Linked DNA regions of Homo sapiens. The protein of the gene in region 2 purifies or fractionates together with the protein of the main gene of each other region. This does not show direct contact. Each region holds a gene or a part of one and is shown on either strand. Other genes may lie near its edges. The genes, in order: ATF7IP and ATF7IP2.

What was found.
Region 1: the proteins of ATF7IP2 (region 2) and ATF7IP purify together in Homo sapiens (affinity purification with mass spectrometry; one large-scale study listed by BioGRID and IntAct). This does not show direct contact.

What each region holds. Positions count from the first base shown.
Region 1 is NC_000012.12:14,420,904-14,424,733, reverse strand, and holds part of ATF7IP (activating transcription factor 7-interacting protein 1), read right to left. Parts: intron 826-3,830; coding exon of another isoform or gene 819-825; coding exon 1-818. UniProt on the Homo sapiens protein: Recruiter that couples transcriptional factors to general transcription apparatus and thereby modulates transcription regulation and chromatin formation. Can both act as an activator or a repressor depending on the context.
Region 2 is NC_000016.10:10,392,412-10,396,241, reverse strand, and holds part of ATF7IP2 (activating transcription factor 7-interacting protein 2), read right to left. Parts: intron 1-3,830. UniProt on the Homo sapiens protein: Recruiter that couples transcriptional factors to general transcription apparatus and thereby modulates transcription regulation and chromatin formation. Can both act as an activator or a repressor depending on the context.

The DNA.
Region 1 (3,830 bases), on a different chromosome or scaffold from region 2:
TCACCAGTGGCCAGATCATCAGAGGCCAGTTCACTAGAGGATAGATCACCAGAGGCCAGATCATCAGAGGCTGGATCAGTGGAAGCTGGTGCTCCAGAAGCCAGATCAACAGAAGTTATTTCACTAGAGGCTATATCATCAGCGGCACAATCACCAGAAATGGGTTCAACAGGGACCGGTTCACCTGGGATGGGATCACTAGAGGTGGGATCACCAGAGGAGAGATCATCAGCAGTGGCATCACCAGAGGTGGCATCACCAGGGGACACATCACCAGAAGGGGCATCACCAGAGGTTGCATCACCAGAGGCAGCATCACTAGAGGAGGGCTCGCTAGAGGTGGGATCACCAGAGGTGGAATCACCAGAGGCCAGTACTCCGGAGGCTGGATCTCCGGCATCCAGATCACCAGGGGCTGGATCACCAGAAACTGGTTCAGCAGGCAGTTTAGAGACTGGTTCTGGAGTTATATTATGGGGAGACAAAGGTTCACAATTTAAATCATCATCCTGCTTGTTTTTTACATTAACACTTAGGATACAGGGTGTTTCCTTCCATTCTGCTTTACTTCCTTCAGGATCAAAACAAATCTCTTCAATGCCATTCACCTCTTCCTTGTCTTTAATGTAATCCATGTTTTCCAAAGGTGAGGTTGGGTCCAAATCTCCATTTTCATGGTTGCCATTTAACAGCTTGACATCAGTTTTCAACAGTTCTTCTTTGACCTTGTACACTGCTTCAAGTTGCTGACGATCACTCACTCTCATCGTTTTTCGAGCCTTAAAGACTTTTTTCTGAGGTTCTTCTAAACTGTCCATTCTGAATCTTTAAGAAAAAAGAGAAAGAGAGTTTAATAACTGAAACAGAAGCCACCTAATTGTAGACTTAATACAAATTGATCTTAGAAGAGATGCAAGCAGCACATTTCATGTAATGTTTAAGACATAGAAAACCTACTGCTTGTTGTATACTAATTATCATATTTACTGCATCTGTGTAATACAAAATCAAAAATGGCCATAGTCTACTAGAAAATCAACTAGAAAGTATTAGGGGGAAAAGGGACAAGTTTTTTTTTCCAATATGGAATTCACAGAGTATGGAGATGTTTAAGCAAAAAAAAGGTAGATAAAGTAAAAAAAAAAAAAAAAAAAAAAAAGTACCTGAAGAAAATGAGAAAGAAAAATAAAAGTGTAAGAACAACAGTAGGGAAATAACAGGTATAGAGATAAAGGAAAAAGGAGGAAGAATTAAGAAACATGTAAGGAAAGATTACATTTGCAACCAAGCATACTTAGATTGGCAGAACTATAAACATATTAACAAAAGATTACCATCAAGAAAGAAAATTCACAACAATGGGAGAAAATATTTGCAAATCATATGCCTGATAAGACTTTTATCTCGAATCTAGAATTTCATATCTAGAATACAGAATATATATTTATATAGAATACAGACTTTTATATCTAGAATATCTAAGAACTGCTATAATTCAATAATAAATCACCCAATTTAAAAATGGTCAAAGGACTTGAACAGACATTTCCAGAAAGAGACCCCTAAGCCAAAAGTCCATAAGCAATAAACATCATGAGACATCAGGGAAACGCAAGTCAAAACCACAATGAAATAACACTGCACACACGACAGGACGGCTACAATCAACGAGAATAATGAGTGTTGGCAAGGATGTGAAAAAACTGGAACTTTCATACAATGATAGTGGGATTGCAAATAGGTGCAGCTGCTTTGGAAAACAGGCAGTTCCACAATATGTGAAGTACAGAGTTGTCATATGACCCAGTGATTCCATTCCATTCATTTCCCAAGAGAAATGAAAACATATGTCCACACAAAAACTTGTACACAAATGCTCTATAGAGGCACTACTCATAATGGCCCAAAACTGGAAACAACCTAAATGTTCCATAACTGATGAATGGATAAATAAAATGTGCCATACCCCTACAACAGAATATCATTCAACCACAAAGGGGAATGAAGTACTGAACATGCTACTACATGCATAAACCTTAAAAATATGCTGAGTGAGAGAAGCCAGTCACAAAAGGCCACATACTGAATGATTCAATTTATATGAAATGTCCAGAGTAGGCAAATCTAGAGACAGAAAGTAAATCAGTGACTACCTAGGGTTGGAAGATTCTGGAGAAAATGAGGAGTAGCTGCTAAAGGGTACAGGATTTCTTTACAGGGTTATGAAAATGTTCTAACATTGATTATGGTGATGATTATACAGCTCTGTGAATATACTAAAAATAACTGAATTGTACTTTAAGTGGGTGAATAGTAGATATGTGGTTTTATCTCAGTAATGCCACTACAAAAAAATTTCAAAATAAATACAAAGGTTGTGTGTGTGTGTGTGTGTGTGTGTGTGTGTGTGTGTGTGTGTGTATTCTCTTTTTTTGGTAAGTTGTGCTACAGTTTTATCAATTCTATTCACTTATTAAAGTATGAACCTTTACTTGGCTGATATTTCTTGGTTTTATATCTGCTTTCTTGTTTTAATTATTTACTCTAATATTTATTATCTCTTTTCACTTACTTTTTCTTGGAAAGAGCTTAACATGTCATCCTTTTCCTTGAGATTCAAGCTTAAGTGTTATTTTCAATCTTTCTTCTTTTGTAATGTGTGCATATAAAGCTATAAATTTCCCTCTAAGAGCTGCTTTAGTTGCATCTCACATTTTAATGTGTCATTTACATTATTCTGTTAAAATATTTTCTAATTTCCATCATGATTTCTTCTTTCATCTATGACTTATTTAGAAGTAGGTTTCTTAAAAAGGTAATGAATTCTGACCAAGTGAAGCTCGCTTAGAAAAATACAAGGCTGATTTCACATTCAAAAATCAAGCAGTGTTGACCATGAACAAGCCATGATGCATTCTGACTTTATTTCATGCCCAGCAGAGTGTACAATTACGAGTTTTGCCTAAACTGAATGTCTGGTACCAGGATGTTACTGACTGAATTGTGCAGCATCCCACACCCCACATCCCCAGAAAGATATTAGTCTTAAGCCCCAGTACCTCAGAATGTGACCTTATTCGGATAGGGCCTTTACAGTGGTAATCAAGGTAATATAAGGGTACTAAAGTGAGCCCTAATCCAATACAATTGGTGTCCTTATAAAAAGGGGAAAATCTGGACACAGACAGACATGCACACTGGGAGAATGCCATGTGACAATTGAAGTTATGGTACCACAAGCCAAGCAACTACCAGAAGCTAGGAGAGAGGCCTGGAACAGATCCTTCCCTCAGCACCCTCAGAGGGAGAATGGCAATGACAACACCGTGATTTCAAATGTGTTGCCTCCAGAACTCTGAGACGATAAACTTCTGTTAAGCAAAAAAGAAAACCACAAAACAAATCAAGCTATTTAATTCACCACATAAACAGAACAGAGGGACAAAATCAACAAAGGATTACCTCAACAAATACAGAATATTCATTTGACAAAATTCAAGACTGATGCATAATTACAACTTGCCAGAAACTAAGAATACAAGGAAACTTACTCAAATCTGATAAAGGTTATCTACCAAGAAAACTAGAGATATCATGTCTGATATTGAAATAGGATCAGAAGAAAACAAGGATGTTTCCTGTAACCATTTCCTTGTTAACATCTGGCCAGTGCAATAAAGGCAAACAAAAGAGCACAAGGATGTGGTTCTGAAGAAAAACAATGTCATCAATCAATAGTAGAATAAAACAAAATTGCTTTAAGGACTAAGATGTACAGGAGGCAGGAATACTGTTTTCACATTGGATAGTCACTTACCATTACCATCACC
Region 2 (3,830 bases):
ACATGGGATTATCTATTTACTTATTTAATTTCTCTCAACATTCTGCAGTTTTCAGAGTATATGTTTTGTACTACTTTTTGATGCTATTATATATGCTTTCCTCAATCTCAGTTTTGGATTCCTCTTTGCAAGTATATGGAAATAAAACAGATTTATGTACACTGATCTTCCATCCTTCAACTTTGTTGAACTGGCTTTTATCTTTAATGGTTTGTGAATCTCTTAGAATTTTCTACATATTAAATCATGTTATCCGTGTATATTTTACTTCTCCCTTTCCAATTTCGATGCTTTTATTATTTGAAAAAAAAAAATGGGCTTCATTTTCCTGACTAGATCCTCCAGTACAATGTTGAATAGAAATGCCAGGAGGGGTCCATCTTGTTCCTGAATTAGCAGGAAAACCTCCAATCCTCCACTATGATGTTAACCGTGGGTTTTTTTACAGATGCTTTTTAACAAGTTAAGGAAGTTCCAAACTTTCCCTATTGTTTAATGTTTTTATCATGAAGGGACACTGGATCTTATCAATGCTTTTCACTATCTCTTAAAAAGATCATGTAGCTTTGTTCTCTTTGATATGGCACTTAACATTAAAGATTCTTGCATGAGAAATTTATTTTGCATTCCTGAAATAAATCTCACTTGGTCATGGTGTATAATCCTTTTATGTTAATTTCAAATTACTAGTATTTGGTTGAGGATTTTCACATCTCTATACATTAAAAAAACATCGTTCTGCAGTTTTCTTTTCCTATAGTATTGGGGTCTGCTTTTGGTATCCAAATAATACTAGCCTTACAGAATTATTTCAGAAATGTTCTGTCCTCTTCTATTTCTTGAAAGAATTGAAGAACTGTACCTTTAAATGTTTGGTAGAATTTACTAATAAAACCATCTGATTTGGGGCTTTTCATTTTGTCCTAATTCCACTGCTTTGTTTATGTTTGTTCAGATTTTCCTCTTCTTCAGTCAGTTCTGGCAGTTTTGTGTCTTTTTAGGAATTTGTCTGTTTCATCTATTAAATGGAGTACCATACAATTGGAATTATTCTATAGTATTCCCTTATAATTTTTTTTTTTAACTACTGGAAGGTCAGAAGTAATGTCCCCTCATTCATTCCTGATTTTAGTAATTTGAGTCTTCTCTCCCTTTTTTGTGCTCAGTTTAGCTGAATGTTTAATTTTCTTGATCGTTTAAGAAAATGATTTATGGTTTCCTTTTCTATTTTTGTCTATTCTATTAATTTCCACACTAATTTTTTCCTACATTCTGCTGACTTCAGGCTCAGTTTGTTCTTCTAGTTCCAGTTTTTCTTAAAAGGTCTAGGTTACTGATTTGAGGTCTTTTTTAATATAGCATTTATCACTATAAATTTTCTAAGAATTGCTGTAATTGTACCCTCCAAAACCTTTGATATGTTTGTCTTCATTTTCATTCACCTCAAAGTATTTTCTAATTAACCTCATGATTTCTTTGACCCATTATTTAGGAGTGTTAATTTCAACATATTTGTAAATTTCTCAAGTTTCTTTTTAGTACTGATTTCTGATTTTATTCACTGGTCAGATAATGTTCTTTCCCATAATTTCAGTCCTTTTAAGTGTGTTGGTTTGCTTCATGGCCTAGTGTGACTATATTGATGGATGTTCTACATACACTCCAAAAGTCTATTCTGCTGTTGTTGGGTGGACTGTTCAAAGATATCTCTTAAGTCTAGTTGGTTTAGTGTTGCTCAAGTCGTCTCTTGTCTCACTGATTTCCTCAGTTTTCTATCCATTATGACAGTGTTGTATTGAATTCTCCAATTATTACTGAACTGTGCATTTCTTCCTTCAATTCTGTCAATAGTTGCTTCATACATTTTGCTGCTCTCTTAGTAGGTGCATATATGTTTATGATTTGTATGCCTGAGGCACCAACTCTTCTGTCATTATAGAATGTCCCTATGTATCTCCAGCAATACTGTTTCAGTATATTTTGTCTGAAATCAGTATAGGCACGATAGCTTTACTATGGTTGCTATTTGCATGTTGTATCTTCATCTATCCTTTTACTTTCAGCCTATTTGCATCTTTGAATCCAAAGTCTGTCTCCTGTAAACAGCCTATAGGCCAAGGCTGTTTTTCCCTTCAGTATGAAAATCTCTGCCATTTCATGGGATTGTTTAATCCTTTCACACCTGACATTACTTGGTTGTTTTTGTTTGTTTAGAGATAGGTCTCTCTATCATGCACAGTGCTGAGATCAGAGCTCACTGCAGCCTTGAACTCCTGGGCTCAAGTGATCTTCCCACATCAGCCTACCAAGCAGCTGGGACTACACGTATGTGCCATCACACTCAGCTAATTTTAAAATTTTTTTGTAGAGACAAGGTCTTACTATGGTGCCCAAGCTCATCTCAAACTCCTGGCCTCAAATGATCCTCGGCCTACCAAGGTGCTAGGATTCCAGACATGAGCCACTGTACCTGGCCTTCATATTACTATTGACATACAGATGCTGTGTGACTTGCAGTAGTATTACATCCCAAAAAACCTATCAGAAATTGAAAATATCCTAGGTCAAAGATGCAGTTAATACAGGTACAACTAACCTACCGAGCATCATAGCAAAACCTAAGCCTACCTTAAACATGTTCAGAACACTCATATTAGCCTACAATTGAGCAAAATAATTTAACCCAAAGTTGATTTTATACTGAAGTCTTGAATTTCTCATGGCTTTATATTCTACCGAATGCCTATCACTTTCTGTAGCATCATAAACTAAAAATCATGTCAAATCACAATTCAGGGTCCACCTGTAGCTTGATTTATGTCTGCCTTTCACTTTTTGGCTTATGTCTCATGCCTTTTGTTCTATTCCTTTACTGCCATAGGATTTTTCCAATGGTGTCTTTTTTTTTTTTTTTTTTTTTTTTTTTGAGACAGAGTCTCACTCTGTCACCCAGCCTGGAGTGCACTGGCATTGAGGCAATCTCAGCTCACTGCAACCTCCGCCTCCCAGGTTCAAGCAATTCTCCTGCCTCAGCCTCCCAAGTAGCTGGGATTACAGGTGCCCACCACCATGCCCAGCTAATGCTTGTATTTTTAGTAGAGAGGGGGTTTCACCATGTTGGCCAGGCTGGTCTCAAACTTCTGACCTCAAGTGATCCGTCCACCTTAGCCTCCCAAAGTGCTGGAATTACAGGTGTGAGCCATCGCACCTGGCCTAATGGTTTCATTTTTAAAACTTCATTTTTCTTTTCTTTTGGAGACATGGATTCACGTTGTTGCTCAGGCTAAAGTACAGTGGGCATGAACACAGCTTACTGCAGCCTCAACCTCCGGGACTCAAACAAGACTCTAACCTGACCCTTCAAGTAGCAGGGACATCAGGGGCGCCCATCACACCCAGCTAATTTTTTTTTTTTTTTAAAGACAGAGTCTCACTATGTTGCCCAGGCTGGTCTTCAACTCTTGGGCTCAAGAAATCCTCCTGCATTGGCCTCCCAAAGTGCTGACATTAGACAATTTATGGGCCTGTGCCTGGCCTATAAATGGCTAACATTATGTTTATAATTTTTATATCAATGTTAATGAGAGATGGGTCTATTTTATTGGGTGTTGATATCAAAGGTTTGCTGACCTCATACAAACTACAAAGTCTTTCTAGTCTCTGAACAATTTCTGTGTGAATGGTGTTATTTTTCCTTAAATATTAGAATAATTAACCACTAATGCCATTTGGGCCTGGGGTTAACTTAGTGGTAAAGGTTTTCCATTAAAATTGAGGTAGAACCAGCTGGGAGCAGTGGCTCACACCTGTAATCCTAGCACTCTGGGAGG